Homo sapiens: one gene and its partners. The protein of the gene in region 1 purifies or fractionates together with the protein of each later gene. This does not show direct contact. Each region holds a gene or a part of one and is shown on either strand. Other genes may lie near its edges. The genes, in order: ARHGEF15, RDX, FAM76B and ZNF326.

Region 1 (8,614 bases):
TGGTCTTAAACTCCTGGTCTCAAGCAATCCTGCCACCTTGGCCTCACAAAGTGTCAGGATTACAGGCGTAACCTACTTTGCCCGGCCCAAATTCCAGATCTTTTTATGTGCCTTTTAGAGAGGAGCCCCTGAACTAAGTGGGCCCCATTCTTATGTCAACTATTGCAGACCAGAGATTTCTGAGTCTCCTTGTCAGCCGTCTCACGTAGCAACCATTGTCTGGAACGCCCTATTTGTGTGTCAAGGAAGCTCAACGTGATGGACTGCAAACTCTCACACCTCCCACCAGCACCTGCAGCCCCTTATCTCCCCTGCTGTGGTCATCAGCACCACCACACCCCCATTCGCCCAAGCTAAAAACCACACTAGTAAATGTTTGTTGAATAAATGAATGGACACAGATAACTTCTGATAACAATGGTGAATCTAAGATAATTAACAATCCTGGATAGCATAGAAGAGATGGTCATGATTGCCAAATAGATTTTCGGACAATAATTGCAATAGAAGCTCAAGGTGAGGGAAGGGAGTTAAAATGGTGCACTCACTTACTCTGGACCCGGCTCTTCACAATATCATATCCCCACGATTCCATGAGGTGGTTCCTATGCTTAGCCCCATTTCACAGATGAGGACACTGAGACCCAGGAAGGCTACAGATTTTTTTTTTTTTTGAGATGGAGTTTCTCTCTTGTCGACCAGGCTGGAGTGCAGTGGCACGCTCTTGGCTCCCTGCAACCTCCATCTCCCTGGGTCCAAGCCATTCTCCTGCCTCAGCCTCCCGAGTAGCTGGGATTACAGGCACCCGTCACCATGCCCGGCTAATTTTTGTATTTTTAGTAGAGACAGGGTTTCACCACGTTAGCCAGGCTGATCTTGAACTCCTGACTTCAGGTGATCCTTCTGCCGCGGCCTCCCAGAGTGCTGGGATTACAGATGTAAGCCACCGTGCCCGGCCTTCTATAAGATCACAGAATTGATAAGGGCCAGAGCTGGGATTCGAAACAAGGGCTGCTTATCTCTAGAGCCCTGGCCCTTGTCCCCTCACCTTTGTGGAGGTGGGATTTAGCTGGAGCTGAAGGTTAGTCTGCCCTCAGGTAGAAGCATGGTGGGGAGAGAACCAGGGAGTAGGGGTGGGGGTGTTCAGTACCTCCCCTCCACAGTTGCTGGAGGAGTATTCTGAGGAGCTTCATCAGGACTGTCCCCTGGAGAGAGAAGCCAGAGTGAAGAGAAAAAAAAACTCCAGGATCCCCAGCCAGGACTCCCGACTCCAGCCCCAGCAGGGATGGTTACTATAAAAACTGCAACTCTCTTCAGCACCAGAGCAGCAGCTGGTGGGGAAGCAAAGAGCCCAGTGCCTGTTGGGGATTGTAGTTTGCTGGGCTTTAGTTCCCCCCTGCCTCTCTCCTGTCCCCTCACAGCCCAGAGGTCCACTCCCCCAGGCCCTGCACCTGTTTGGATTCCATCTTCAGAAAGCAGATCAAGATCTGGCTGTGGGGGGTCCCCGAAAATGGTGGCATCCTGCCTGACACGAGTTGGTTTGGGAGGCTTGAGGAGTGGCAGGAGTTTGCGCTCAGCAGTGGAGCGGTAGGATGTGAGGACAACGGCAGGGTGACCGATGCTTGGAGGGTGGGGGCGGGAGCGAGAGGTCCGCAGCGGGGAGGCCCGACGGGGGACCCTGGGGACCTCCTCATAGCCCCCCACAGGCACCCATCTGAGCTCCAGGCCAGGCCGGGTGGTGTGGCAGACACAGGGGCAGCAGGGAGGGCAGGCCAGGCCAGCATCTGTGGGAGACAGGTAGCCTAAGGAGAAAGCCCTTGGGGCCCAGCTCCACCCCCGCCCAGACCATCTCCATCTTTAACCTGCCCAGCAACTGCAATATCAAGGTCCAGGCATCTATAGATCTCCTCCACCCTGACTCCCTTCAAATCCCGACATACAGAAACCAGATATCCCAAACATTAACTCCATTTTTGAAAAGGTAGCCCCTGAAAGTTGTTAGCACTGAAAACGGAGAAGATGGGTGGATTGAGGTCACCCAGCGCCCCCCACCCGCCACACTCACCTGGAGCACCGTTCTCCTGGGACCCACTCCCGGTGAGGGGAGCTTCTCTCTCCCCATTCACATCTGCTCTCGCTTGGAGACCTGGCTCCGGGGCATCTGCATCCTGAGCCCGGCCTTCAGCACCCCCTTCAAACCTGCCAGCCAGCCTCCGCACAGTGCCAGGAGCTGAGGCAGAGCCATTCTGAGCCAGGACTCCAGCCATGGGGAGCAGAGGCGTGCAGGGTGACCCAGACGGCTTGGGTGGGGGGACTGGAGACCGGGGAGCAGGTTCTGGGGAGGCGGAGCGCCGGGACACTGGACTAGGTGTGGGGGTGCTGGAAGGTGAGTCTGGGGAAGTCTGGGAGTCGAGGCTGGCTCTAGAAGCTGAGGGGGGCAAAAGAGCAGGGGGCTTGAGGGATGCAGCTGGGGGCTCCCAGAAGATGGGGGTGCACATTGGGGTTGGTGCATCATTGGAGTTTCGGGGTAGTTCTTGTGGAGAGGAGCCATTGTGGGGAGGCCCTGGGGACTGGGCAGCCCTGGAACGAGAAGGAGGGCGGGGGCGGATGATCCGAGGGGGCTTCTGCGTGGGGGGTGTTGCTGCAGGAAGGGACTGGGCTGACATCTTCCTCTGTGCTCTTCAAAGGAGTGAGGTGCTCTGCTGGAGTCATCCCCTGAGGAGGAGGGAGGGAAAGAGAAAGACCCTTAGTGCCCCACAGGGAGGGTAAACTGGGGCCACTGGAAGGCAGGATTTTGAAGTCAGGAGGGAAGGCTGGTGTGGGGGTTCCAGAGAATCCATAAAACTCAATACGGGATACAGCCGCTCCGTGTCTGCCCACTGAACCGTGTGTCCGTGGAGTGTGTTGTGGAGGTTTGTGTGTGGTTTGTGTAGGGGGTGGCATGGTGTGTTGTGAGTGTGCGAGTTCTGTGCTTGCCGGGTGGGTGTGCAGGGGGAGAGTGGAGCATACGGTGTGTGGTGTGTGGCCCTTTAGGAAGTTCTCGGTGTGAGTGTCTGAGATAGCGGTGCCAGGGTGGGTGTGCCATGTGTGTTCTGCGCTGTCTGGGTCTGGGTGCCGTGGGCGCGCCTGTCCGCCGGGCCTGGGCTGCGAGGCGTGCATCACTGTTTCCCTGCTCCACTGGCCCTCCGCCCCCCATTTCCCAGTTCCTCTCTCCGGACTCTCCCTTTCCGGATTATTTTTAGTCTCCTTTTCCTGCCATCAAGATTCTTGGAGCCTCTGACCCCCGGAGATGAGGAGGTCCTGGCGAGGTCTCTCCTGTCCTGCGTCTGATCATCCCCGCCTGCCCTAGGGTCTGGTCACAGAGAGAGGCCCAGCACAGCCATGGGTCTTGCCAAGAGGCCTGGGGAGGTGGCTGGGAGAATGAACCGAAGGACAGGACCAGTCGGGCCAGGGCGCTGCGGCCTGGGTTTCTCTTCCTCCCTCGAGGAAGGAGGCTACAATCCCAAGAAGGCTGCAGGGTCAGGGCTGGGAAGCAGAGGAACCCCCAAACTCCCTTCAGGGGTCAGCAGGAGAGTCAGACCCCTCCAGGCCTCGGACTGGCTCCTTGAGAAATGATGAGGGGGGAACAAGGGGGTTGTAGATGATGGGTCTTGCAGCTCAGTGGCCTCTGTGTTCTGGCAGAAAGTCATTTAGCAAAGTGACCCACACGGTAGTCTTGACCACTGGCCAACTCCTCCCCAGCCCCTGCCCCTCAGGGATCCCACCCCCTCTCGGGTACCTGCATTTACTTCCTTCCCTACCCCACCCTTAGGAACCCAGGTACTCGGGCCCCAAGCACTCACCCTTGAATCCCCTCCACTCTCAGTCACCTCCCAGGGCTGAGTGAGTAGGGGCAGGAAACAGGAATCAGATCCGCCTCCCAACCGGACACCCCCCCCTCACGAACCACACCACTCTCCACATGCGCACATCACACAGGGCCCCAGGAGACAGAGGTATCCAGGGTCTCAGAGGTTAAAGGGGTCTGGGGAAAAGCTGAAATTCAGGCTTGGAAAGTGTGTGCGCAGGTTCTACCTGCACAGCTGTGTGGATCGGGGCTCATAGGGGTGAGGTGGACAGGGGTAGGGATGAGGACAAGACGGCAATGGCACAGAGCCTGGCTGAGCAGCATGGGTGTCTGGATGCCTCTGTCTCAGCTAAGGGATGCTGCGTGCGTCCCTCCACGGCGAGTCTCACCATCTTTCCCCGACTTGCACCACCACCTGTCTCCTGAGCCGGGTGTGAGCCAACGCCTATTTCACACCCAGGGACCCTCCCGCAGGCTTCCCTCCCTAACTCTGCAGTAGGTCCCCATGAATTTACCTTTATCTTTTTGGAACCAGTTGCTATTTTCAGCCTGTCCTGTCTGCCCCTTGGAGCGAGGAATGCAGGGCTGAGGTTTCCAAGTGTGTGTTCCTGTGATTCTGGGGTGGGAACTCAGGGCCCAGATTGAGATCTCTGCGGAGGAAGCCAGTTCCTCAGCCCCACCCAGCCATTGTGTCTGGCGTGTGTGTGTGTGTGTGTGTGTGTGTGTGTGTGTGTGTGTGTGTTAGAGGAGAGAGAAAAGGGGAGGGCCAGGAGGTAGGACTGAAGAGAGAAGTGTGGACTTGGGGTCTGTCTCCTCCAGGGAGGTATAACATTTGCAGGGGCCCAGGCGTGGTTGCTCATCCTTATAATCCCAGCACTCCAGCACTTTGGGAGGGCAAGGTGGGAGGACCAGCCTCGGCAACATAGTGTGACCCTGTCTCTACAAAAGATTTTTAAAAAATTAGCCGTGGACAGGCCGGGCGAGGTGGCTCACATCTGTAATCCCAGCACTTAGGGGGGCCGAGGCAGGCGGATCACCTGAGGTCAGGAGTTCGAGACCAGCCTGACTAACATAGTGAAACCCCGTTTCTATTAAAAATACAAAAAATTAGCCAAGCATGGTGGCACACGCCTGTAATCCCAGCTAGTCGGGAGGCTGAGGCAGGAGAATTGCTTGAACCCAGGAGGCAGAGGTTGCAGTGAGCCGAGATCGCGCCATTGCACTTCAGCTTGGCCAACAAGAGCGAAATTCCATCTCAAAAGAAAAAAAAAAGCCATAATGGCACACATCTGTGGTCCCAGCTACTCAGGAGGCTGAGGTGGGAAGATTACTTGAGCCCAGGAGTTGGACACTACAGTGAGCCGTGATCGCACCACTGCCCTCCAGCCTGGGCAACAGAGCAATATGCTGTCTGAAAACAATAAAAAATGTGCAGAGGTCGGGCGCAGTGGCTCATGCCTGTAATCCCAGCACTTTGGGAGGCCGAGGCAGGAGGATCACCTGAGGTCAGGAGTTTGAGACCAGCCTGGCCAACATGGTGAAACCCTGTCTCTACTAAAAATACAAAAAAATTAGCCGGGTGTGGTGGCGCACGCCTGTACTACCACCTACTCGGGAGGGTGAAGCAGGAGAATCACTTGAACCCAGGAGGTGGAGGTTGCAATGAGCCAAGATCCTGCCACTGCACTCCAGCCTAGGCAACAGAGCAAGACTCCATCTCAAAAAAAATAAAAATAAAAAATGTCCCAGGAGCCGTGGCTCACGCCTATAATCCTAGCAGATTGGGAGGCCAAGGAGGGTGGATCATCTGAGGCCAGAAGTTTGAGACCAGCCTGGCCAACATGGTGAAACCCCATCTCTACTAAAAAAAAAAAATACAAAAATTAGCTGGGCATGGTGGCGGGCACCTGTAATCCCAGCTGCTCTGGAGGCTGAGGAGAGAGAATCACTTGAACCCAGGAGGTGGCAGTTGCAGTGAGCTGAGATCGTGCCATTGCACTCCAGCCTGGGCAACAAGAGTGAAACTCCATCTCAAAAAAAAAAAAAAAATTAGCCGGGCATGGTGGCACTCGCCTGTAATCCCAGCTACTCAGGAGTCTGAGGCACAAGAATCACTTGAGCCCAGGAGGCGGAGGTTGCAGTGAGCTGAGATCGTGCCATTGCACTCCAGCCTGGGCAACAAGAGTGAAACTCCATCTCAAAAAAAAAAAAAAAATTAGCCAGGCATGGTGGCACTCCCCTGTAATCCCAGAAGAGACTTAATTTTCCAAACAATAAGCCCCAATAAAAACAGCATGAAGCCAATTAAATTTTTTCCAAAAAAAAATTTTTTTTTTGAGACGGAGTCTTGCTCTGTTGCCTAGGCTGGAGTGCAGTGGTGCGATCTCTGCTCACTGCAACCTCCGCCTCCTAGGTTCAAGTGATTCTTCTACCTCAGTCTCCCGAATAGCTGGGATTACAGGCATCTGCCACCATGCCCGGCTAATTTTTTGTATTTTTTAGTAGAGGCAGGGTTTCCCCATGTTGGCCAGGCTGGTCTCGAACTCCTGACCTCGTGATATGCCCGACTCGGCCTCCCAAAGTGCTGGGATTACAGGCGTGAGCCACCACACCTGGCCCCAAAAATTTTATAAATAGTCTATAACATTTTAATCTTGACCATAAGATGTAACTTCCATAACCTTTGTATAACCTTTATAACCTTTATTAAGGAGTCAGTTAATGCTCCAAGAAAACCTTGTGAATCTGACACAGGGGCCCATATGCTGGTCTTGCATCAGTGTGTCTTTGACATTAATGGTTAATTTATAGAGAAACTGAATTTATTTTATTTCTCAAAATCAACCCTTACCATCTCACATGCCCACCTCTTCTGCAATAGTCCCTGGGCCTTGAGGAGTTTAACAGCTTTAATTTGTGGCCGTGTGTCTCGGCAATACAGTTATTTTGATTGGCATCTTCTACTGGGCCTGAAGATGAGGCTTTAATTGATGTTAGTTTTTAAGATTTAGCAGAATTGGTGTCCTTTTTAGACCCAAGAATCAAAGCCCTGTAACTCAGTGTCACAAGGACTTTAAAAGCACATACAGAAAAATACATGGATGTAATAAACTTAATTTTAAAAAATTGTTTTTGGCCTGGCATGGTGGCTCACACCTGTAATCCCAACACTTTTGGAGGCCGAGGTGGGTGGATCACCTGAAGTCAGGGGTTCAAAACCAGCCTGGCCAATATGGTGAAACCCCATCTCTGCTAAAAATACAAAAATTAGCTGGGCGTGGTGGCAGGCGCCTGTAATCCCAGCTACTTTGGAGGCTGAGGCAGGAGAATTGCTTGAACCCGGGAGGCGGAGGTTGCAGTGGGCCGAGATCGGGCCACTGCACTCCAGCCTAGGTGACAGAGATTCCATCTCAAAAAAAAAAATGAAAAGGAAAAAGAAAAAAAGCAAGAGTAGCCTCTGTTGCAATAACTATTTTAGTCAATAAATCAGGTAACACAATACAAAAGTAGGCAGTTTAGCCAGGCAAGGTGGGCAGATCACCGAGGTCAGGAGTTCGAGACCAGCCTGGCCAACAGGGTGAAAATCTGATTCTACTAAAAATACAAAATATTAGCCGCGCATGGTGGTGCATGCCTATAATCCCTGCTACTCAGGAGGCTGAGGCAGAAGAATCACTTGAACCCGGGAGGCAGAGGTTGCAGTGAGCCAGGATCACACCACTGCACACCAGCCTGGGCACGACAGAGTGAGACTCCATCTCAAAAAAAAAAAAAATTTATTTTGCCAAGGTTGAGAGCACACACCTGTGACACAGCTTCAGGAGATCTTGATGACATGTGTCCAAGGTGGTTAGGGCACAGCTTGGTTGGTTTTATACATTTTAGGGAGACATAAGACCTCAATCGATATAAGTAAGACGTACATTGGTTTAGTCTGGAAAGGCGGGACAACTCAAGCACGGAGAGGGCTTCCAGGTCACAGGTAGGTGAGAGACAAACTGTTGCATTCTTTTCAGTTTCTGATTAGCCTTTCCAAAGGAGGCAATCAGATATGCTTTTTTTTTTTTTTTGACAAAGTCTCACTCTGTCACCCAGGCTGGAGTGCAGTGGTGTGATCTTGGCTCACTGCAACCTCCGCCTCCCGGGTTCAAGTGATTCTCCTGCCTCAGCCTCCCGAGTAGCTGGGACTATAGGTGCCCACGACCACGCCCAGCTAATTTTTGTATTTTTAGTAGAGACGGGGTTTCACCATGTTGACCAGGATGGTTTCGATCTCCTGACCTCGTGATCTGCCCGCCTCGGCCTCCCAAAGTGATGGGATTACAGGCGTGAGCCACTGCGCCCCGGCTCCAGATATGCATTTATCTCAGTGAGCAGAGGGATGACTTTGAGTAGAATGGGAGGCAGTTTGCCCTAAGCAGTTCCCAGCTTGACTTTTTCTTTAGCTTAGTGATTTGGGGGCCCCAAGATTCATTTTCCTTTCACACTGTATATCCCAAAGTTCTGGAAGAGGATCAGGCACATAATAGGTGCTCAATAGTTGATGAATTGAACCAAATTGAATTGAATCCTTCCCACAGTTCACTACTCCTCTTTTTTTTTTCTTTTTTTTTTTTCTGAGACGAAGTCTGTGTTGCCCAGGCTGGAATGCAGTGGCAGGATTTCGGCTCACTGCAACCTCTGCCTCTTGGGTTCAAGCAATTGTCTTACCTCAACCTTCTAAGCAGCTAGGATTACAGGCATGCGCCACCACGTCCGGCTAATTTT
Region 2 (7,979 bases), on another chromosome or scaffold:
AATATTCAGCACATTCTTACCCTGAAAAAATTAAGAAATATAAGTCACAAGCAAAACAATTTTGAAAGTTTCAAACTACTATATCTAAAACAATGTCTATCAGTGAAAAGCAAGAAATGAGTCACAAAAAGCTATTTTCTTCGAGATATGTGTCAAAGATTTCTAACTTGAAAATTATACATACTCGTTTTAAAGGACAGAGTGATAATACTGTCTTTGAATTTTAATATAATGAAAATATTAATAAATACAAATTTAAGGTACATTTAAAAAACTGAGCAGTCTTAAATTTTAGATAGCCTACTCCTATCAATTAAAAGTGAAAGGTCATAAACCCCATACCTTTCCAACTGCTTCTGATGTTTCTCCTCCCTAGCCTGAGCCTTCATCTGTTGTACTTCAATAGTATCAGGCTTCCTTCTTCGCATGTATAGTTCATGGTTTCCCATACATAAGGCCAAAATCCGCTTATTGATTCTCAGACGAGGTGCATAAAACACAAAATCCTAAACATAAAGTATTCTGAATTTAAAATCTTCCTCAAGGATACTGTCTCTCATAACAATCTGTACTAAATTTTAACATGAGGTATGAATTTTAATGTCATATTACATATAGTTTAGAAATAAGAAATCATACAATTTCATAACTCCCAGTGAGCATGACATACTTTCACATAACTGGTTCCTCACCTTTTCATATCCAACCAGTTTTGTAAAGAGGCTAATATTCTTATCCTTGCAATACATTAAATGTCATTTATTCCTTTTTGTTCTCGAAAGTAACTATGAGCACCTGTTCCTTATACACCATTTGCCATTAATGTCAAAATTGGTTCTTCGTTCATGGCTGTAGAGTTTTTTTTAACCTAGAATTGTTCTTTTTTTTTTTTGAGACGGAGTCTTGCTGTCATCCAGGCTGGAGTGCAGTGGTGCCATCTCAGTGCACTCCAACCTCTGCCTCCCGGGTTCAAGAAATTCTCATGTCTCAGCCTCCCTAGTAGCTGGGATTACAGGCATGCACCACCACATCTGACTAATATTTGTATTTTCAGTAGAGATGAAGTTTCACCACGTTGGCCAGGCTGGTCTTGAACTCCTCATCTCAGGTGATCTGCTCCTCTCGAGCCTCCCAAAGTGCTGGGATTATGGTCCTGAACCATTGCACCCAGCCTGTTCTTCTTACTTTTACCTTTTCAGTAACTAACAGGGTTAGGATACTAGAGTATACTTGACATTAGAGGAACTTTAAAAATCTATTTAAATAAAAAGATTTCTTAAGTTCAAGGCTTCAAGTTACAAAAATACAAAGTTCATAAAGCAAAACTGTATAAACGAAGTTAATTTAGAATAGGGCTACCTCTACTACATTCTAGCCACCAATGAAGAAACACTTTAAAATTGCTTCTTAGGAATGGTGTTTTCATTAGCCTCCTAATAAATATTATCTATTTATAACTGAATCTCAAATAAAATAAAATTCTAATATTTACATCTTACTTTAAAAAATTAAATCTTTGGATTTTTATTAACATATTATTTCATCACTGGGAAAGCTGACCTATGGAAAGAGAATGGTCCTCAGAAGCAATTTAATAAATGAACACTGTTATTCTTCAAGTGATATCATGGGAAACTAGCAGATATTAAACAGTTAATACACAAAATATTAAAGAAATTACTTACAGGTGCCTTTTTGTCGATTGGCTTTATAACAAATTTTTTGTCATTAAATGAAATATTTCTGATTTCACTCCAGGGAAAACCAATTTTAGGTGTTAACCTTAAAAAATGAAAGCATCTCCTTAATTAAAGGCAGGAAACAATGAATAAAATTCCTGTTTAGGACCTAAACTGACTGAATGACCAATCTTAAGAGTTCCAGATTTTCAAAATGTATTAACTTATTCATAACTACAGTTGACCTTATCTTTTAAGGGGAAAACTGATAAATCATATAAAACAAACAACTGTCCAAAGATTTCATAAATGTGTCATGAACCTTAAAAGCAGTGTATTTTCCTAAAATTATCTAAAAAAACTACCTGGTGACCCAAGTGTAGAACTGAGCCTCCTGGGGTTTGAACTAGCTGTTCAGTTTTTATTGTTTGGATTCAAGCTACAACTACAGTTTAAATATGTGTAAGAAGTGGGAAGAAAAAAAAAGGCCTTTATAACTTCTCATGTGAATTACGGGCAAGTTACTGCAAATAAAAAAACAGTACTTCCTTCCTGTGTTTAATTTGAAAATGTCTGGATATTCACGAATATACTAAAAATACTTAATTTTCAGTATATTTTGAAAGAATCTTATGGTATATGAATTATATCTCAAAAATTTTAAACACTCACATACATAAATATTTGGATAAATGATAGAGATGGAATTCAAACTCTTGAGACTATACACAGCAGTTGACTCCGTTTTACCACCCTACACACAAAGATATAGGGAATCATATTGGAATAAGTGATTTTGTTTCTGCCTTTTCATGTATTTTACTGTTTCAGACTACCTATCAAATGCATCACTATTGTCCTATTGTCCTAATAACTAAGACTGAGAAATGATTTTGACACCTATACTGGCCAGAAGACATCTTTTAGCCAGGCTTCTGACAACACAGCATGAATTTTTACCTATTTATATTCCTTTTAGTTCTCAAGCAGAGTAGGTACTGCAGCACAGCAGAGTCTTTTCTACATAAAACATTCTTTACTCAATAAGCATATTAGAGGACCCTCTAATGGCCCCTGATATAAGTCAAAGTAACATGCTTAAAACGGAGACTGCAGGAATGCAACATAGTATTTTAGAGAACACTATGCTACGTTTATATGCTACTTTGAAAAATTCTAAAGCAATTGCCTCATATAATTCTCATAACACTCTTGTGAGGTAAGCCTGGAAGCTAATACAATAACTTTTTTAACATTTAAAAAAATTGCTCCAATATGTGCCAGAACCACCACCACCAAAAAAATTAAGAAGCCAGGCACAGTGGCTCACGCCTGTAATCTCAGCACTGGAGAAAGCAGAGGCGCAAGAATTGCTAGAGGCCAGGAGTTCAAGACCAGCCTGGGCAACATAGCAAGATCCCATTCTCTAAAACAAAAGAAAAAGATTCAGTTTACAAAAATTAGTCTTGAAGTCATTTTTGCTTTTCAAAAATTTCTCTTCTAAATGATATAACCTTCTAACTTGCTTTGTAATAAAAACATGAGAAGATATTAGGGTAAAAATAGTAAAATGCTCTTGTTTGGAATCACATATGCTTTGAAATTAGTATTTTATTAGATATCTGTAGTAATAAAAATTAAAATTCTGGAGCCAACCTAGAATAAAGAATAATGCCTTAGGAAAAGGCATTAATTACTGGCATAGACTTGCATGCTTATGTGGTATGGTAAATAAATTAAAGTCTAAGACAATTGAGTTATTAATCCTGAAAAGTAAGAGTCTGATGTATTTTATATTGCATGTGTATGTGTATAATATACCGTCTCTATATAGTATTTACCCATGTATTTGTATAGTACATATACATGTATATGTAAATATACATATATTATACATATAATAAAATATTGATGAATTATATATGTATAATAAAAAACTATTTGGTCAATTTCAAGATATAATTACAGTGTTCAATATGTGTAATACAGGGATATTCTATTGTATTAATGTCCAAACATATTTAAAACAATTCCTATATATAAATGTTCAAAAAAATCCTCTAAGATGTGATAGACATATTTATTAAATCCATTCTCTCATTGCTCCTGATTTCTTATGTATGTTCAATTTCAATCTATTTGTCAAGCATAATAGCATTTTAAAGAATTATTTCTCACCTATCGAGGGAGCAAATTTTAATTAAGTTACTAGACATAACTCACAAGAGCTAAAAGCAGCACAATTCAAATAAAAGTCAATCATCTCATTTGATAAATACACTGAAAAGTAGAACTCTGAAACTGCAAGGTGATAAGAAAATGGAGGTAAAATATCTACAAGTCTATGTGTCATTAATTCATCTTTTAGTTTGAAAATAGTAAGGGTAATCAAGACAAGAAACTACTTTGAAAAACAGGACATAAGATTAACGTCATTTAGACCACTGAACAATGACTAGTTCACTATGCAACTAATTTACTTACTTGTCGTCATGCTCATAAATATTCAGACCCAAAGCATCAACACCTAGCCACAATTCAGTTCCTTTTTTATTTTTTATTTCAAAATAGTTGACTCCATACATTTCTAGATCTTGTGCAATCTTCAGGTATTCCATCATAGAATCCTCCCTGTTGAAATAAAACTAAATGTAATATATTTAAGTAGGAGCATATCAAACTAAAGTTGCAAAATACCTGGAATTAAAAATTAGTACTTTACATAAGTCAAACAATCTTTTGGAAATAATGTAATAATAAATGTTACGACATGAAAATACTTTGAAGGAAAAAAGAAAACATAGAAAATAGCTACCCAAATACCTTAACATTCCTCTATGTTCTTCATGCCAGTTCTGTATTCTTTCTTCCCACTGTTCTTTTGTTAGTTTGTGTTGTTCCAATACACTAAGAGGACCAAAAAAAAAAAAAAATTATAATGACTTTAAGATTCAAAAGCATACACTTTAAAAGTAAAGAATCCTTTCAGTAACTTGACTGTGGTAGTTGTCAGACAATTAATACACATGATGAAATTGCATAGAACTAAATTACATACACACAGAAATGAGTGCAGGTAAAACTGATGTAATCTGAATAAGGTGGCTAGATTGTACCAATGTCAATATCTTGTTTGTAATATTGTACTGTAGTTACACAAGATGTTACCATCAGGGAATGCTGGGAGAAGGATACCAGGGATCTCTTTTTTTTACAACTGCATAATAATCAGTAATTATCTCAAAGTTAAGTGTCTAGGATCCTTAAATTCCTTGAAATAATACTTGCTCCATAAAGTGATTACAAAGATAGCTTATAGGAACCCAAACAGTTCAAAGGAATAAAACATTAGATAAAAAAATGGCTCATTGTTAATAGATAAAGACCAGACTGAAAACCAGAATTCTTGGGCCCTAATTCTTCCTTTATGTATTTACTTTTTTGCTACTAATTTTGTTGTTTTAGGTAGGTAATACTTTCAATTAAAAAGTAGAGTGAAAAGTCATACTCCAGTCCAATACCCCCCAAATAACTTGTTTTTGTATCCTTCCAGTGTTCTTAATTCAAATGTGAGCAAATACATTCTTTTTTTTTTTTTTTTTTTTTTGAGATGGAGTCTCGCTCTGTTGCCCAGGCTGGAGTGCAGTGGCACAATCTCGGTTCACTGCAACCTCTGCTTCCTGGGTTCAAGTGATTCTCCTGTCTCAACCTCCCAAGTAGCTGGGATTATAGGTGTGTGCCACGATGCTCTCGGCCTCCCGCGTAGCTGGGATTACAGGCGTGCGCCATAATGCCTGGCTAATTTTTCTTTTTTGTGTGTTTTTTTGGTATTTTTAGTAGAGACGGGGTTTCGCCATGTTGGCCAGGTTGGTCTTGAACTCCTGACCTCAAGTGATCCACCTGCCTCGACCTCCCAAAGTGCTGGGATTACAGGCGTGAGCTACCACGCCCAGCCAAATACAAACATTATATTCTACTACTACTATTTTAACACCAAATCAGCAAAGTCAACATGATTATAAGTTACCTACTATGCACACTACAGTTTGTGACTTCTATTCTCTTTGGCTCATATGATAATTATTCACCTTTATTTACCAGATCCTACTTTACTGACAGCAGAAGCTGTGGTGTTAAAATATTACTGTTTTACTATATAAAAAATCTTGCATGAAACCCAAGGATTTCTTGGCAGCATAAAGGAATGATAAAATCTCCCCCTGGATAAGTTACCTACTACTTAGAGTAAATTCCTTAAAGGGGTCTCAGACATACTGTTATGTTCTTATTATACTCTGCTCCTTTCTCTAGGCATCTTTTCCAAGCTCTTGCTTTTGGGGAGAAGAGTTTCATCTTCCTTCTGAGAGAGCTTAGGTTTCCACAGTTTCTTGTCTTTCTTGCTGTCTGGCCTCTGGGCTCACAGAGAGGCATGCAATCAGCCTTGGAGACATAACCCAGTGCAGTCAATTGCTTACCATAATTATATGCCCAATGCCAGTACTAAAGAGGGCCTCGAAAATTTGTAGAGTGAATAAATGAATTAATCAATTTTTCCCAACCCCTATTTTTTTTTCTTTTTCAGAGACAACTTTCTTTTATGGACTGTCCATTATACACTAACCTCAATTTCCATACCTGACATCCACTGCCCCCAGTCTACCATAATCTGGCTCAAACACCCAATACTCTATGGTAACTGTTCTTCTTTTTTTTTTTTTCTTTAGACAGAGTTTCGCTCTTGTTGCCTAGGCTGGAGTGCAATGGCATGATCTCGGCTCACTGCAAACTCCACCTCCCGGGTTCAAGCGATTCTCCTGCCTGAGCCTCTCCAGTAGCTAGGATTACAGGCATGCACCACCACGCCCGGCTAATTTTGTATTTTTAGTAGAGACGGGGTTTCTCCATGTTGGTCAGCCTGGTCTTGAACTCCCAGCCTCAGGTGATCCGCCCACCTCGGCCTCCCAAAGTGCTGGGATTACAGGTGTGAGCCACCACACCCGGCTGGAAACTGCTCTTCTAAGGTCACTACCAAGCTCCTTATTCCAACAGATACTTTAGTTCTCCTCATATTTGACCTCTTGGTACCATTTGGCAGTGCTGACCATTCTCTTCATCAAAGTATTCTTTTACCTTGGCTTCCATGATATAATACTCTTCTGGTATTATTCTTGTTTTCTGAGATGGAGTCTCGCTCTGTCGCCCAGGCTGGAGTGCAGTGGCGCCATCTTGGCTCACTGCAACCTCCGCCTCCCGGGTTCCAGTGATTCTCAGGTCTCAGATTCCCGAGTAGCTGGGATTACAAGCATGTGCCACCATGCCCAGCCATCTTCTAGTATAGAATTATTCTTGAATCTGTGGCCAGTGTCTCAGTACAGTTGTCCCTCCATATCCATAAAGGATTGCTTCCAGGACTCCCCTTGGATACCAAAAACTGTGGATGCTCAAGTCCCTGATATAAAATGGTGCAATATTTGCATATAACCTATGCACATCCTCTTGTATACTTTCAATCATCTCTAGGCTAATAATACTAATACACTATATTATTACTACTATGTAGTATAATAATACACTAATACACTACAAATGCTATGTATTGTTATCCTGTATTTTTAAAATTTTGTACCTTTTCATTGCTGTGTTATTTTTTTCACATATTTTCAATCTGTGGTTGGTTGACTCTGTGAATGCAGAACCCAAAGACAAAAGCTGAGGTCCAACAAGATCTGTCCTAGGTCTTTTTCTCATTTTTATGTACTTGGTAGGTTGATCTCTTTCATTCTCATGGTTTAATTACCATCTATTCACTGATTACTCCCAAAACTGTATCTATAGTCCAAGACTGTTTCTAAAAGGTCTGCACCCACATATGCAAATAAATACCAGATATCTCTCTTGGTTATATTGCACATATTTCAAACTCAATAGGTTCAAAACTGAATTCATCTTCCCCCTCAAATGTATTTTTTCTTCCACTCATTTTGATAAAAGGTATTACCAAATACCCAGCCGCCCAAGTCAGAAACCTGGTATGTAAAAGTTTATGTATATTTAGCTCTTTTCAAAGGGAAGCAATACTATCTGGTGGAGCTAATTATCTATACCACAAGAGCTAAACTTTTCTACAGTAAGAACAGATTGCTCATCTGGGTTTTTCAATACAAGAAATCAGAATGTATCAGAATCACTAAATTATTTTATTTGATTTGTTATCACCAAATAACCTAATTACTCATTTCCTCCCCAGACTGTACTTAGATACTGAGAAAAAGTGTCCGATATACCATACTGGAATAAGCC
Region 3 (7,979 bases), on another chromosome or scaffold:
CTGTCAATCAAAAAGAACCATAAGACAAAGACACCCGTAACTATCCTATTTTATATGTCACTCCTAATTTTCATATACTAAATTTGCTTAAAGTAAGCTACAAATGTATTAAAATAAATTAAGCCCACTAACCATCAAGGTGTGGCAAAATGTATCAAAAATTACTGAATGCCAGAAGTAAAAGCCAACTCAGCACAGACTTAGAGATGGATATAAGTCATATATGTATTCATATTAAGGCCTTATTCTTTTAAAAGAAATGATTTTAGTGTTCTCCTACTGCATAATACATTTGATACAGGTCAAACTACATTGTCTGGGACCATAAAACAAGTACAAAAGATGATCAAACAGTAATAGCCCCTATGGGCACTTATACATACCAGGAGCTATAATAAATACTTTGCATTTTCATTAATCATCAAAACCATCACTTCAGATAATATTAATGCTCTCATTTAAATGAGAAAACTGAGGTCCAAAGAAGCACACATTCTGCTTTAGGTCACACAGAAAATGTTAGAACTAGGATTTGAATCTAAGTATGGCTAAATTACTTCAAAACTGTTTCCTGTTCCATGCCTGTCCACTATTGTGCCATCCTGATTTCATAGCACAAGACCTTAAATCCTTCTGTAATTCTGTTAATATTCCTCTTTTCACTAAATGAACAACACATTTTAATATTCCTCTTCATTTAACTGATGAAGTCCCAATAAGTACACTTACTTCCTACACAATGAGCTTTTAGACATCTATTGCTAATTACTATTACTGACTACTACAGGAAATTCCCATACCATTACTTTTCAGCAGTATTTTGATCTGGATTGATACAAATATATGACTGGATTGATACAAATATATGAATGTTATATCAAAGACTGTTCAAACTACATTCTTAAATCAAAAAAGTTTATGAAATATTCCATTTACATCTCATTTTTAATTAGGTATTAGATCTATTTTTAAATTACATGCTTACTGAAAATTAAAGTTTGGAAATTACTATCCTAATTAAGCCTCAGTTAATTCTTAGAACTAAAAATCTGAAAGACCATTTTTACCCATCTTCATTAGATGGCTTCAGGGGCTTTTGTAATTTGTCTTATAAAAATCACGCACAACAAACATTACCAAATTATTAAAGGAAGTCTAATAAAATTTGCGATTATCAAGCAACAGTCAACACATAACTCTTACCAGGCTTCAATGAACCATGTTCTTACCTTTTTATCTTTTTCTAAAATGGTCTGGTCTCTCTGCTGTAAGAGACGCTTAAGTGACATCACTTCTTCTTTCAATTGACTTATAAGGACAAAATTGTCTGTTCCCCCACTATCTGCTGACTGATTTATAGAGCTACTAAAAAGAAAAAAGTAAAACACAGTTAAATGAAGTAGAAGGAAAATTAGCAGGTGTTCAAATTGCATAAATTAGACAATTCCACAAACATCCTTAAGGCTAATGCAAAAAAATATGTACCTGACAGAAATGGATGCAACTGGCAAATTACCTTACTAATGGCACACATTACATACACCTGCAGAAATATAATTCAGTATTAGCTTTAAGGGGGTCAATACTTCTAGTGTAAAGCAATAGGCAGCCAATTTGTACAGTAACATCAGCAAACTTTTGGCTAATGAACTAAAACAAAGTAACGCTCATAATATTTTTAATCTAAAAACATTTTCTAAGCAGGTCAATTTAAAATATCACAATTAGATTTGTGTTTCACTGAAGAATAAAGATAAAAATAATGTTCTCCATTCAAATTTGTTTCTTCAAAACCCAAATTTATTTCCCAAATAGAACAACATAGTTCAGTGCCACTTTCTTATTGCCAAAATTAAGCTAAAAATTTTAAACTAATTTATGTTTATTCTTCTAGGTGACTCAAGTCAATGTAGAAAATACATGTTTCTATTTTTTTATCTAGTAATAACTGGCATTCAACCATAACTATTCAACTAAGTTGAATTTTCATAACACTAAAAGAATTCATTTTTACCTATCTCCATTAGATGGCTTAGATTCCAATTTGGGCTTTTTCTTTGGAGTTTCATTCTGAATTGTTGCAGAGGATTTATGGCTGAAACCAAACATTAATAAGAATAGTTAGAGTAAAAAGGACAGAGAAACCAAATGATAAGTTATTCATCTTCCCCTAAAATATTACTGAAAATACTGATTTTGGTAAGACTTAAGTAACAAAGTTGAAGGGATATCACATTTATAAATATACATTTCAAAATACTTCAGAAAATACAGCAATGTATTTACCTCTGTTTCCACAGTCCCTGCTCTTCTTCTGGACTTAGATTGCTGATTCTGAAAAATACACAAATGACATCTAATAATGACATTTATTTATTTAATACATCTAAATTTAACATTCTTTCTCAATGGATACAAATTTTATGTTTATAATATTTTCTTCAGAGAAAGGTATATTTAAGTTTTCAGACTAAGCTAATACATATTGAATAAATCACATTCTGATGAAATAAATTTTAATAAAATGACTGCTAACCATCTCAAGTTCTTCAAGAATTCTTTATAATCAGGATCTCCACAGTTCAATTTAATATCATACAAAGGGTGGGTTACACAAGTAGTTTTCGTGCTTGTGTCTAGGTATCACTGTACTTTGGCTGCCCTTACTATTTCAGACACAAAATTTGTATCTTTAAAGTTAAGGCTTTCCTAATAATCTGAAGTAGAGATTCTTCTTTTGGAGTAACTCAAGTTGCTCAGAATAGTATTTCAATTTAAATGGGGAAATATATTGATTTCTTTGATTCTTTCCTAGTTTTCTTAAGAATCCTCTCCAAAGTCCATAGAGCTCTCTTTAGTTAGTATTCTGGAGAAGTTACGCTGAAACTATTGAGAAATTTCATAGTAACAAATTATTTTACTTTTACTCATAATTAATACTGTAATACTCCTTTTCTATTTTACCCTAATACTAATAATCACTTTATAATTCATCATGAATCCTTCATTTTTTTCCTCCTAAACTTGCATATCAGTCAATGCTTCACTAACCCTAGCTTATTCACTCAGCATGTAGAGAGCATCTCCTATGAACCAGATGCCACGTATTTATACGATTTAGAAGATGTTAGAATACCTGAGCTGTGACCTTATGCAAATTACTTAACATCCCCAGCCTTAGTTCCCTCATATGTAATACATACCTTATACTGATATGAGCATTAAATGAGTTATATATGTAAAATCACTTAGTACAGTGCTAGCATATACAAAATAGACATATATATATATACATGTTTACTTGTGTCTAAAATTTACTATTGGTTCAGCTGTAGAAGTTTTTTAAGCAAAAGAAAAAAACAAACCTTAAGACTCAGCTGTAAACAAGTACCAAGTTGGGAAAAAAATGTTAATAGCAATAATTCCATCAAGTGAGTTATTCTTACTTGTGAATGAATGGAAATCCTATTGAGGAATGCAGTTGTCCCTTTTTTTTTTTTCCCACAAATTTCATTATAAGCCTAACAAGCCATACATGAACTAACAGCACTAACCATATCTCAAAGTTAAGAATAATCACATTAATATCACTGACAGAAACACTTGGAATTCCCATCTTATCTTTCTGAGGGTTGTCCATTCCTAGATTCAGACCCACCTTAGTGCCACCTGGCAACCACATCCCCTACCCCTGCCGATCACTATCTATCACAATATGAATGCTCCTCATTTTCATTCTGATCTATTGAACTTAAGATAGGACCCTACAAAGTAACTGTTCATCAAATGGTCAACAGCCATCAAATAGAAAATAGTGTTTGTATTTCATAAGTAACCAGAAGTAAAAAAATTGAAGACTTTCATTTTCAATACTGTTCTCTTTCCCTTTATTTTTGAAACCTGTCATTCTTTCAAAAAATTAAGTTGCTGTCACATACTTTAGTCTTCACAAACATAATCTGATTGTGTCCTTTTACATCATGCTAAGACAAATTTATCTGTAAAGAATAGGGAAAGGAGACATTTTGGGAGTCTTAGAAGTAGGTCTGACATATGCTATTATGGTATATAGTCATTTTGTCATATTTTTTCTTAAAGCAAGAAGCAAAAACAAGGTAGACTTATATTATTTTGCTTCTTGAAATACTCTGATATAAAGATCACAAGGTTTCTTCAAAACAGCCAGAAGAGAAGACACTGCATTGTAGTCTACCACTGCCACATTTAGAAAACACTACAACATGGTAGAATTAAACATCACTAACCTCAACGTAACCTCATAATCTAATAGGTGATTGGATACAGTTTACAACAAATCTTACTAATTAGACAGAACTACATTACATTCTAAAAATACTGCATGTGTTCCAAAATGAGGTGGGCATCAGTTGTTTGTAAATTCTGTTTTAAATAACTATCTGAAACTTTAAAGACTCACAGAAAAATTTAAGAACAAACAATAAATTATTCTGAAAATGGGCATGCCATATGTCCGTTTTTTCCATTTTAATTTGTGTTTGTCAGTTTAATTTGTATTTTCATGTTCTTGATTTTTCCGTGAAGACTAAAATTGCATTTTAAAAAATCTTTATACCACACACATCAAGGGTTAAGGTACTACTACTACTACATAACTCCCCCCACAGGTCACTTTAAAAATCAAGTACAGCTGACCCTTGAACAACCCAGGTTTGAAATGTATGGGACCACCTATAGGAGAATTTTTTTTTCCCAACCAAATACGGATCAAAAATACAGTATTTGGAGGATGTGAAACCTGCATATATAGAAGGCCAACTTTTCCTATAGGCAGGTTCCACAGGGTCAATTGCAGAACTGGAGTATATGCAAATTTTGGTCTATGAGGGGGTTCTAGAACCAATCCCTCAAGCATACTGAGGGAAAACTACAGTTGTCTCTATTTAAGTAGAGTTCCTAAATATATGTTTGAAAAAAACACAAAGTATCATTAGTTAAAAATATTGCTCATATTTTGGGGACCACAAAGATCAGAAATGCTTCTATCATAGTAACAAATTATAGTATTAAAATATGTTCTCCAAACCCAGTCATTGGTTTGTTTCGATTTGTTTTTACTAAAACAAATTGACAACTAAAATATAATTTTTCAAATAAAACCTTAACAATTATTTAAACAAAAAAAGAATACTGAGGCTTTTGATAAGTTATTTAAGTGTTAATTAACTGACGTACTTGTATTTTGACTTTACATGGTTATAATTTTATAGATTTTCCTAAATATCTGTATTATGGTAAACAGCTCAACATATTTCATGTATATAACATTCTACACTGAATAAAATGGAGACACAGCCTTAGACACTCAAGATGCTTACTGTGTACAATGGAAACTAGACTAGCACATAGTCAATATTTGCAAGAAGTAAACATCAATAAATGGCATTAAAATGCAAGGAAGAGTTTTAGAAAATATGATTTCAAAGTACTTACTTGTGATGGCTACTGCTGTGACGATGGTGATGGTGATGATGGTGGTGATGATGTTTTGGATGATGCTGGTCTTTCTCAGTAAGAGATGAAGAAGATGAATTTGAATGTGAAGATCCCAGGCTCTTCCTTTGTTCTTTCGTCTTCTGTAAAACTCTTTTGTACGATAAAGTACAGAGCCAGCATAATAACTTTCCATCAACCTTTTAAGAAAATGTGTTAAATTAAATGTACCCATATAAACTGGCTGTAAACGAAACCAGGTAAGATAAACCACTCAACTTCCACCTATATTCCACACGTAACATGCACAAATGCATGTATGCACATATTCACGGATTTTCTGCAAAACAGAAATAAAACTGGACTTTTCTGAAACTTGAGAAAATACTTGTTAGGAGAATTATAAAACTGATGAGGATGACATCAGTTTTGAAGCATTTTTAATTTGAAGAAAAAGAAAATGTTACCTTTTTTCTTATTCCAGGAGAATAAGCATAAACTGACTGATATACTTCCAAGAAATATAGCCTGAATTCTTATATCGCTGTGTCATTACTAATAATTTTTCACTACAGTAAGTACTGTAAATTTACAGAAAAACAGAAGCATCTAAATGACACACAGAGTTGCTTCTCATTATTCTTGCATTTCCTATTCGTGTATTTGCCTACCTAGTAAAATGTATCTGTAACCCAAAAATCAAGACTTGTAGCACTTTTGTGGCCACTGCACACATACACAAGAGTGGTGAAAAATCTGTGCCACCCAATAGCACACATTCTCAGCTGAGGTGGAACAAGGTGATGCTCTGCCTCATTTATTTCACCTCTCAGACAAGTATCCTTTTCACAGTCTGTTTAGTGCCATGTTTTTCAAGTTTTTATAGTCCCAAAGAGTACTGCCAAAGTGCTGTATAGTGTTCCTAGGCTCAAGAAGGTTGTAATGTGAAATGGCAAAGACATGGAATCAACCTAAATGCCCATCGTTAGTAGACTGGATAAAGAAAACATGGTACGTATATACCATGGAATACTATGCAGCTATAGACAAGAACAAGATCATGTCCCTTCCAGGAATATGGATGGAGCTGGAGGCCATTAACCTTAGCAAACTGACAAAAGAACAGAAAACCAAATCCTGCATGTTCTTACTTATAAGCAGGAACTAAAGGATGAAAACACATGGACACACTGAGGGGAACAACACACATTAGGGCCTATCAGATGGTGGAGGGTAGAAGAGGGAAAGAATCAGGAAAAATAACTAATAGGTATTAGGGTTAATACCTGGGTGATGAAATAATCTGTGCAACAAACCTCCATGACACAAGTTTACCTATATAATAAACGTGCACATGTACCCCTGAACTTAAAAAAAGGAAAGCTACGAAGGCTGTGATGTGTCTTAAAGAGAAAATATGTGTGTTACATAAGTTATGTTCAGGCACTCTTAGCACTGTTGGCCATGAGTGCAATTAAATTAATCGACAGTGTGTGTGTGTATATATACACACACACACACACACACAATTTTTTTTTTTTTTTTGAGACGGAGTCTCTGTCGCCCAGGCTGGAGTGCAGTGGCGCAATCTTGGCTCACTGCAAGCTCCGCCTCCCGGGTTCACGCCATTCTCCTGCCTCAGCCTCCTGAGTAGCTGGGACTATAGGTGCCTGCCACCATGCCCAGCTAATTTTTTGTATTTTTAGTAGAAACGGGGTTTCACCGTGTTAGCCAGGATGGTCTCGATCTCCTAACCTTATGATCCACCCACCTCAGCCTCCCAAAGTGCTGGGATTACAAGCATGAGCCACCATGCCTGGCCAATCGACAGTATACATTAAATGAGATATCTTCAAACAGGAACACAAACAAAATAAGGTTATATATTGATCAACTGACCAACATGTTATTACTGGAAATGTGAACTTAATCCTATATTTCTCTTGGGCAATGCTTCAATACAGTACTCCCCTATCTACAGTTTTAGTTACCCATAGTCAACCTTAGTCTAAAAATATTACATACAATACACTATTCTAAGGGATAAAGACCACATTCATATAACTGTAACTAGGGTATGCTAATATAATTGTTCTATTTTGTTATTATTTTTATTAGTCTCCTGTTATACCTAATTTAAAAACTACACTTTATCATAGGCACGTATGTACAGGAGAAAACACAGTAAGGTTCGTTACTATCCCCAGTTTCAGGCATCCACTGGTCTTAGAAGGTATCTCCCATGGATAAGGTGGGTACTACCGTATTCACTGTTTTGTGGGAACTTTAAAGAACTACCACAAATAATGAGAATCAATCGTACCTGTGTCAAAGAAGAGACTTTCCAGAAGTACTGACTAAACCTCTAAAAATAAAACCAAGTTTTTATCTTCTGTTTGTTCACATGTATTCCATCCATAGTATTCCATGATGTTTATGTACCAGACATGCTGGAGGGACATGTCTTATAATGGGATATGTACATTGCTGTGGGGAGACCTGAGGAA
Region 4 (7,979 bases), on another chromosome or scaffold:
TGACTCCATACAGTCAAATCTCAATGACAAGTGTTTCTTTTTAAGAATACTGTTATTTCTGAATATTTGATATCTTTTGGATTGCCAATATGAATAGAATGCCTTTTTTCTTATGTTTTCTAAGTAGTGATTACATATAAATATCAAAAACCAAAAGCATTCCTCTGTATCTTTGAACAAGTCTTTTCATTTGAATCTTAAGAACTTTTTAATATTACAATTGATGTGTTGGCTTTTTCTAGGAAATCATTTTTTAATGAACCTAATTTTCTGACTCTAAGTACAAACCTGTATCCATCTCCGTATTTCTCACTGTTTTTTTCTCTTCTGCGCCTTTGTTTCTCTCGCCGAGCCTCAATTCGCCGCTTTTCTTCCTCTTCATTTTTAGGATCAGTTTTTGCTAGGATATTACACAAAAAAGTAAAAGCTAAAATTCATTTTTCCATTCTCTCTTTCCAATCATCAGTTCGTAAAGTACATACTTATGAGGTATACTTAGTGATTGTAATCTAAAATTGAACTCACCAAAAAAATCGGAGTTTGAGACTATCCAGTATTTCTGAAACTTCACTAAATGAACTTCATTCATTTGAATACCATCATCATGAATTCTGTCATATCTGCTTGTCATCTATGTGATTATTTGCTACATATTTTTCTTTAAATGTGCTCATTTGTCCTATCCTTATTCTAAGCAATAATATCCTTATCACCTAAAATCATCTTGGGCATCACATACTTTGGGAAAAACACTAAAGTAACCTGACCGAGCATGAAAATGGAAGTCCAGTAAACACTGCAGAGCCCTGGATGCAAGAACTCATGTTCATATTGTAGGAGCTCTCAGAAAGTTTCTTAAAATTTGTAACCTCCAAAATAAAAGCAAATTTGTTCTCTTTTTTAAAAAATATTCTCTATTGTGATAAAATACACAAAACATAAGATTTACTAGTTTAACCATTTTAAAATGTGCAATTCAATGGCATTAAGTACATTCACAAAGTTACGCAACCATCTCCACTATCTAGTTACAGAACTGTTCATCATCCCATAAAGCAGTCACTCCCCATTTCAACCCTACCCTAAGGCCCTGGTAACCACTAATCTGCTTTCTGATCTACGGATTTGCCTATTCTAAGTATTTCATATACCTAGAATCATCCTGTCTGTTGCCTTTTTGGTCTGACTTTTATTTAGCATGTTTTCACAGTTCACCCATGTTGTACCATGTATTAGTAAGTACTTCCTTTTTTATGGTTTAATAATATTCCATTGTATGAATAACCCACATTTTTTAAACCATTCTTCTGTTGATGTATATTTCAATTGTTTCTACCTTTTGGCAATTATGAATAATGCTACTATAAACATTCATATATAAATTTTTGTTTGGACCAGGCACAGTGGCTCATGCCTGTAATCTTAGCACTTTGGAAGGCTGAGGCGGATGGATCACTTGAGGCCAGGGGTTCAAGACAGCCTGGCCAACATGGCGAAACCATCTCTACTCAAGATACAACAATTAGCTGGGCGTGGTGGTGCACATCTGTAGTCCCAGCTACTCAGGAGGCTGAGGAACGAGAATCGCTTGAACCCAGGGGCAGAGGTTGCAGTGAGCCAAGACTGCACCACTGCACTCCAGCCTGGGCAACAGAGTAAGATCCTGTCTCAAAAATAAAAATAAATAAATAAATAAATTTTTGTTGGAATACTACTTTAAATTCTTTGGAATAGAAGAATACCTAGAAGTGGAATTGCTGGATCATATGGACAGTCTATGTTTAATTGTTTCAGGAAGCACCAATCTGCTTCCCACAGTGGCTTCACTGCTTTACATTCCCATCAGTAATGTGTGAGGGTTTCAATTTCTCCATATCCTTGTCAACATTTGTTATTTTCCTTTTTTTATTATGACCATCCAAGTGGGTATGGAGTGGTAACTCACTGTGAGCAGGTTCTTTCTTATAATACATTTAACTTTATACTTAAAAAAAAAAAAAAAAAAAAAACTTAACTATTTGCCCTTAAATTTTTCCTTTTATGCACTGCTTATCCTTTTGGATGGCCTTTGAAAAATCTACTTATTTATATATTACCTCAAATAAGTAATTTAATCTTCCTTTCATATGCTAAAACTATGACATGTTGTACTTCTAGCCAAGTGACAGAATAGGGTTCCTTTCCTACTAATTTTCTATAAAGTCACATAGTCTATACTATAGCATAGCAAGACCTTGTATTGAGGAAAATTCAGCAATCATCTTTTTAAATGCCCATTTTACACCTGACAGAGAAGGCATAATTTAAAGAATTTTAGTTTCATTCTTAGCTACACAACACTTTTCTCAAGTTTTGTTATATAAAAAGGGGGTATGGGGGAGGGATACATATATATCTGCTTTAAGGGCAAATCAGTTTCTTTATCAAACTTTTGCAATATTTAACCATACGTGCAAAATATATCTTTGAAATAGGTCCCAAGAGAATCAACTGAATTTTCTATTATAGTAATGTCTAATAAAATGTCAAATTTGATACATAACAGTCTATCAATTGACACACTGTTAAAGGTATCCCCACAACACATACTCTGCTTAGTATCAGGTTTCCAGAACTCCAGAAATTCCAGAATATTGTTTCTTATTAAACAATAAGGCCTGATGAGAAAGTAATTTAAGTACACCTTTTAAACCTTTTTCAAATTTTATATTATAGAAAATATATTTTGAGGAAAGAATCTAACATTGCAATTTCAGTTTTTTCAAATATTACATATTAAAATGTCTATAATGTCATAATTAGGGAAAAAGTTATTTTAAAATAAAAGGGAAAAATGAATACAAAGCAAATTTCTGTTACAATCATATGGAGGTTTAAGAACAGGACTTCTAGAGCATGACTTGCTCTGGAATAAATACTGGCATTACCATTCACTGGTTGTTTGACTTAGGCAGCAAATTATTTATCTATTCTGTGCCTGTTTTCTCAGCTGTAGAGGGTTTGATACACAACCACAAGGATTCAGGAAAAAGGAATGGACCAGGTTATGTACATTTTAAAAGTATCTTTGGGTATTCATGACCAATTATTAACTGCAATAGGGGATTTACAGATCTAACTTCTACAATCATAATTGTTATGTAGTTTCTGTATATAAACATGAAAAAATTACCAAAAAGTATGGAATTTTAAAAAATAAAAAGTATCCTGAATCATAGCAATTATGTTTTCTTACTTACTGGGTGATTTGCTGAGGCTTATCTTCTCCATAGGTTTTGCTAGTTTGGGTTTCTTGATAAAGGTTCCACTGGGCTTATTAAATGGCTGCATCATTTTTCTCTTTATTCCTCTTGCAGCAGCAACTGTCACATTGGTGGATTTGTTTTGATAGTCAACAACAATTCCGGGTCTATGAATGCTTCCAAAATCACCCATATGCTGTAAATTTGTGAAATCAATAAATATTAGCATATTGTCCAAGAAAAAATATGAATTCATATAAAATTTTCATGTTAACTATCTACTAATTTTCACCTGAAAATTCCCTGGAATGTAACTAAATTTTACATGTCCATTCTGAAAAAACACATTGAAAAACTCTGTAAATTATTACATAAACTCAAATCCATTGAATTAGTATTTTTATTTCCAGTAGAACAAATAATGAATATTTGCTAACTATGTTTTTACTTTTACATTTCAAAATTACTTGAGATTATAGACAACATATGTGCCTGTCCAAATGTTACCACTTGTACAACTCTCTGACAACTCCTCTTCAGAGTTCCTAATTGATGTTTTCCCATGAAAAGACCCTAAAAGAAATCTTTATTTTACTAAAACTAAGATACACAAAGAAGACCATATTTGTAGTTTGAAGTAAAAAAGATCCAGAAATCATTTAGTATTCTCCCTGTTGAAAAAGGGAATGAGAAGGCGAGATGGAACATTAGTATGAAATAGGAGAGTTAAAGCATAACCATGCATCAACTTCCAAGACACACTTCAGATAAAGAATTGCATCTGACGTTCCATTCACATTCTTACCTAGAGAAACATTTTCTGACCCAGAAGCCCAAGAAACAAAAGTTTACAGATGAAGAGTCATGCAACCAAACGACTCTTTGTGTCCCTTCCTCTTCTCTTGTCATTATCCAAATCTACTACACCAAGAGGCCACATGTCCACAGAAATTTATTCTGCTAATCTTACTTTTAGAAGATAAAGATGGAGGAGTAATCTGAAGAGAAGGACCCAAGGGGAATTGTACAAGTGAAGATTTAAAATGTAGGTCCTATTGGCTCATCTACTTCACTAACAGGAGGAAAGAAAGAAAAGTCCATTCAGACTAGAATGGTAAATACAAAGTACAGGAATACTTGTTTATTATGAAAACGAAATTTACTTTTGAAGCCTCATTAAGAAAACACACTTTGTCTAAAATAATATACAGCATGGAAAATATTAAGTGTTTTCCAAATTTTCAAACTAGAATGGATTTTCAATTCAAAACCCAAAGCCTATCATCCCAACTATTTTCAATTAACCTATGATCATGAAGTATAGTGGAACTGTAATGTATCAGTTGCTTACATTTGTATACTATGCTCAGGAATGCCTATCTAACCTAGTTGTGTTTCCAGGTAATTTAAAAAGTCACAACAGGAAAATCTTCCTTAATTACGCATTAAAGGTGCAATGCATTTTTACATAAGTAAAGAGTAACTGTTAAAAATGCAAAATTTCTACACAAGTATAACAAGCTACACTGACATATCAAAAGCTAATAACCAGTCAAAAACGTGTACCCTACTACCTTTTTTACTAGAAATACTTTCCTCTGCAAATAAAATATTAAGAGCAGCTGACTTAAAAGGATTCTTACATTATAACAAAAATACAATACTCTTTAAATGATCAAACTATATAATAACCCCACAATCTGCATACACTTACTAGGTAAATTTTCATGTCAATCAAGTGACCTAAGAACATAAAGCATAATGTTTACACTATGTACCCTAAACTTAAACAACTGTGGACTAGTATATTTACTCATTTAAGCAATAATTTACAAAATATTACTTCCTAAGAAGAAACCATAAACATATCTGTACAGGTGGAAATTATTTCTCAAGAGTAAAACTAGTAACACGAGGGAAAATAAAACAACCAGCAACTGGACATATTGTAAGCGTGAGTTAGCAAAATTACACTGACCACAAATCATTGTACAATCTATTATACACATCAACTTCTTCACCACATAAACATGGCTAAGCTATCCTGATCTATCATCAACTTTTAGTCTCCTGTGTTTAATGTGAAACATGGAGCTTTGAAGAAATTCTACTTGCTAGAGTTTAGCCACAAAGTATAAACATTTTATCATACATTGCACCTTTAACCTACTCAAAAACTCAAAAAGGGTTCAGTGACCTTTCACAATAATCCACAAACTATTCCACCAGCAAAACTGCTAGTGTTTACAAGGAAAATGCAACTCCTTTTAACCCCTTTTAGACCAAACCAGTAGCCTCACCTTTTTAATAAAGGGAGATTTGGCACAACTTTATGATCATCTCAAACTGCCACTTATTTTCTGAGGTGCTAGAAAAACTTTTACAGTCAACCTAAAAATTATGTTTATGACTCAGCTTTTGCTTCAAAATACACCGGGATGAACAGTGTTTATTCTAGTTGAAAACGATGGTCTTGAAAGGGTTTAAAAGAGTGACTAGTGAAAAGAATCTGAAAAGATTCTGTTGTACTTACTCCTCGGCCTCGGCCTCTGCCTGTTGATGGTCCTCCAAAAGCATCATAGTTTCTGCTTCCAAACGTACTTTCAGGATAAGCAGGCGTTCCTCTCCCCCGAGAGCCTACAGGTGCAGGCTTCATATGGGGTGAAGAAAAACTGCTGTAGGAAGAGTAATTCTCTCTTCCTCTGTCCTCCATAAACCCAGGCCTCAATTTTGAACGGGAGTAAGGTGCTTCCCAGCTAGACCCGCCCTGGTTTCTACCTCCGAAAGAGTCAAGGCTATTCCGGTAGGAGCTCTCAAATCGACCACCATAACTACCTCCGAAGCGGCTTTGTTCGGGTTCATTAAAACCATAGCCAGATCTGTACAGATCTCGCCCACCCAGAGAAGACCTGGAGTCGTAAGACTCATAAGGTCCAAACCTGGAAAAGTTGCACAGTGAGGGAAAAAACAAAAGTAAGCTTACTAATGTTAGACAATTCAAAAGACAAATTATCAGATGACATTTATCAACTAAAATTCATTTATACCATACTGGTTTGCACAGTTCTACTTTTGTTCACATTTGATTAGGGCTGGGCAGTTCAACGTGAGACCAGATAGAAAGCTATCTGAGTCAGATTATAAATATGAATTGAGTTTAGTAAAACTTAGCTTTAAAATCTGCTTCTTAGCAGCTTTTCTATTTTATGAAGAAGAAAAGATTTGTCTGTCATTATTTAAGCCCAGCCCTAGTCTTGGAAAAGGTCATTTGCTAAAGTTCACAAACTATTCAAACTTTTTTGAATCTATCCCTAATATTAAAAATTACAAAACATTTACAATATTTTGGCTTTCAATAGGGACACAAATTGAAGTCTACTTAGATGTAGGTTATTTGTGACACAGAGAGATCCTTTTGCACTCCCAATAATCTATATCACAAACTGCTTCATTGTGTCTGTAGGAGTCAAAATTTGGGGAATTATCTCTGGTTATAAAAATTTAACAATCTGCCAAACTTCAGCCAAGGTCAATTAATCAATCCTCAATCACTTTTTACTTGTAGACTAGAAAATCTAACAAATCTAGAAGGATAAACAGATAAAACATAAAAGATCACCAACATATACCCTCTGCATATGAATTTTCAAGGCAGATGAGAAAGAATACATCTTATAATATATTCAATTATTTGCAAAATTATTTCCTTCAGGAAATTATCACATAAAACTACCCTAAAAAAGGGAGCACACAGTCTCCTCGAGGTTTTAAGAGAGTTAACAGAAGAAATAAATCATCTTCCTTCTCACAAACCCAAAGCATGGATTACAAAAGTTGCTTGATATCTTACAACACAATTTTATAAAGGCCCACAATTACACATGAGATAAAACAATAACATCTACGGATATAGCTTATGCACATTACATTCACAATATAAAAGGGCAATAACTGACATATTAAAACATTAAGTGTTACATTACTTCAATTATTTACAGATCACTAAATAGATTTACTTCTGAATCCTAGTAACCATATAAAAATTATTCCTATTTCCAACTACATTTTTCAAAACATCTATCACATAAGCAAAATAGTTGCAACTGTTCACTTTCTTAATTTTTCTTTACTATAAACCATAGTGGTACACTGGAAGCAGAAAGAAGGAAAGTAAGCATCATTCAGTCCATCATTAAGGAATCCGGATCCTTCAATTTATGCAGAAGGATGACTGTTTCACATGTCTACTAACTAGTTTTACTTATATTCAGCAGGAACCTTTGTGCCTCAAAAAGTAGACACCCCTTCTCCTGAAATATGGTCAACCTTAAAGCTTGTAGTTGTTTAAGTAGGTTTAAGCTTTATACAGTAGTAACAGGAAAATATAAATACAATCTCGACTAGTCAAAGGTATAGTATTCATGGCTTTAATACAATGCTTCTAGCCTAGAGCACAAGTGCTTTGGTGTAAGTAGTACCTGTCAATAAATAACCTGAACATAATTTTAAAAATATTTTTATTATTGCAATATGCTCTTCCTTTAAAATTAGAATTAAAGGAATATGTCCTGAATGTTTCTTGGAAAGTAAATGTTAGACTGGTTCAGTAAAATCCATTCTAGTTAGACTGCTTTGCTAATTTACATAGCACCCCACATTAGAAAAGATTTTTTTTAATTATTAAGAAAAAGCTTCATAAATAATATTTTCAATAACATTTTTATATCATTTTTCAGG

What was found.
Region 2: the proteins of ARHGEF15 (region 1) and RDX purify together in Homo sapiens (affinity purification with mass spectrometry, with the first as the bait; one large-scale study listed by BioGRID). This does not show direct contact.
Region 3: the proteins of ARHGEF15 (region 1) and FAM76B purify together in Homo sapiens (affinity purification with mass spectrometry, with the first as the bait; one large-scale study listed by BioGRID). This does not show direct contact.
Region 4: the proteins of ARHGEF15 (region 1) and ZNF326 purify together in Homo sapiens (affinity purification with mass spectrometry, with the first as the bait; one large-scale study listed by BioGRID). This does not show direct contact.

What each region holds. Positions count from the first base shown.
Region 1 is NC_000017.11:8,306,092-8,314,705, reverse strand, and holds the start of ARHGEF15 (rho guanine nucleotide exchange factor 15), read right to left. Parts: upstream 4,466-8,614; 5' UTR 4,363-4,465; intron 3,885-4,362; exon of another isoform or gene 3,843-3,884; intron 2,716-3,842; 5' UTR 2,667-2,715; coding exon 2,066-2,666; intron 1,785-2,065; coding exon 1,452-1,784; intron 1,206-1,451; coding exon 1,151-1,205; intron 689-1,150; exon of another isoform or gene 553-688; intron 1-552. UniProt on the Homo sapiens protein: Specific GEF for RhoA activation. Does not activate RAC1 or CDC42. Regulates vascular smooth muscle contractility. Negatively regulates excitatory synapse development by suppressing the synapse-promoting activity of EPHB2.
Region 2 is NC_000011.10:110,253,604-110,261,582, forward strand, and holds part of RDX (radixin), read right to left. Parts: intron 4,587-7,979; coding exon 4,503-4,586; intron 4,311-4,502; coding exon 4,164-4,310; intron 1,804-4,163; coding exon of another isoform or gene 1,783-1,803; coding exon 1,686-1,782; intron 507-1,685; coding exon 343-506; intron 1-342. UniProt on the Homo sapiens protein: Probably plays a crucial role in the binding of the barbed end of actin filaments to the plasma membrane.
Region 3 is NC_000011.10:95,777,593-95,785,571, forward strand, and holds part of FAM76B (protein FAM76B), read right to left. Parts: intron 5,673-7,979; coding exon 5,473-5,672; intron 2,357-5,472; coding exon of another isoform or gene 2,335-2,356; coding exon 2,287-2,334; intron 2,096-2,286; coding exon 2,015-2,095; intron 1,544-2,014; coding exon of another isoform or gene 1,534-1,543; exon of another isoform or gene 1,486-1,533; intron 1,366-1,485; coding exon 1,230-1,365; intron 1-1,229. UniProt on the Homo sapiens protein: Negatively regulates the NF-kappa-B-mediated inflammatory pathway by preventing the translocation of HNRNPA2B1 from the nucleus to the cytoplasm.
Region 4 is NC_000001.11:90,005,547-90,013,525, reverse strand, and holds part of ZNF326 (DBIRD complex subunit ZNF326), read right to left. Parts: exon of another isoform or gene 7,081-7,979; intron 6,182-7,080; coding exon 5,776-6,181; intron 3,439-5,775; coding exon 3,240-3,438; intron 401-3,239; coding exon 289-400; intron 1-288. UniProt on the Homo sapiens protein: Core component of the DBIRD complex, a multiprotein complex that acts at the interface between core mRNP particles and RNA polymerase II (RNAPII) and integrates transcript elongation with the regulation of alternative splicing: the DBIRD complex affects local transcript elongation rates and alternative splicing of a large set of exons embedded in (A + T)-rich DNA regions.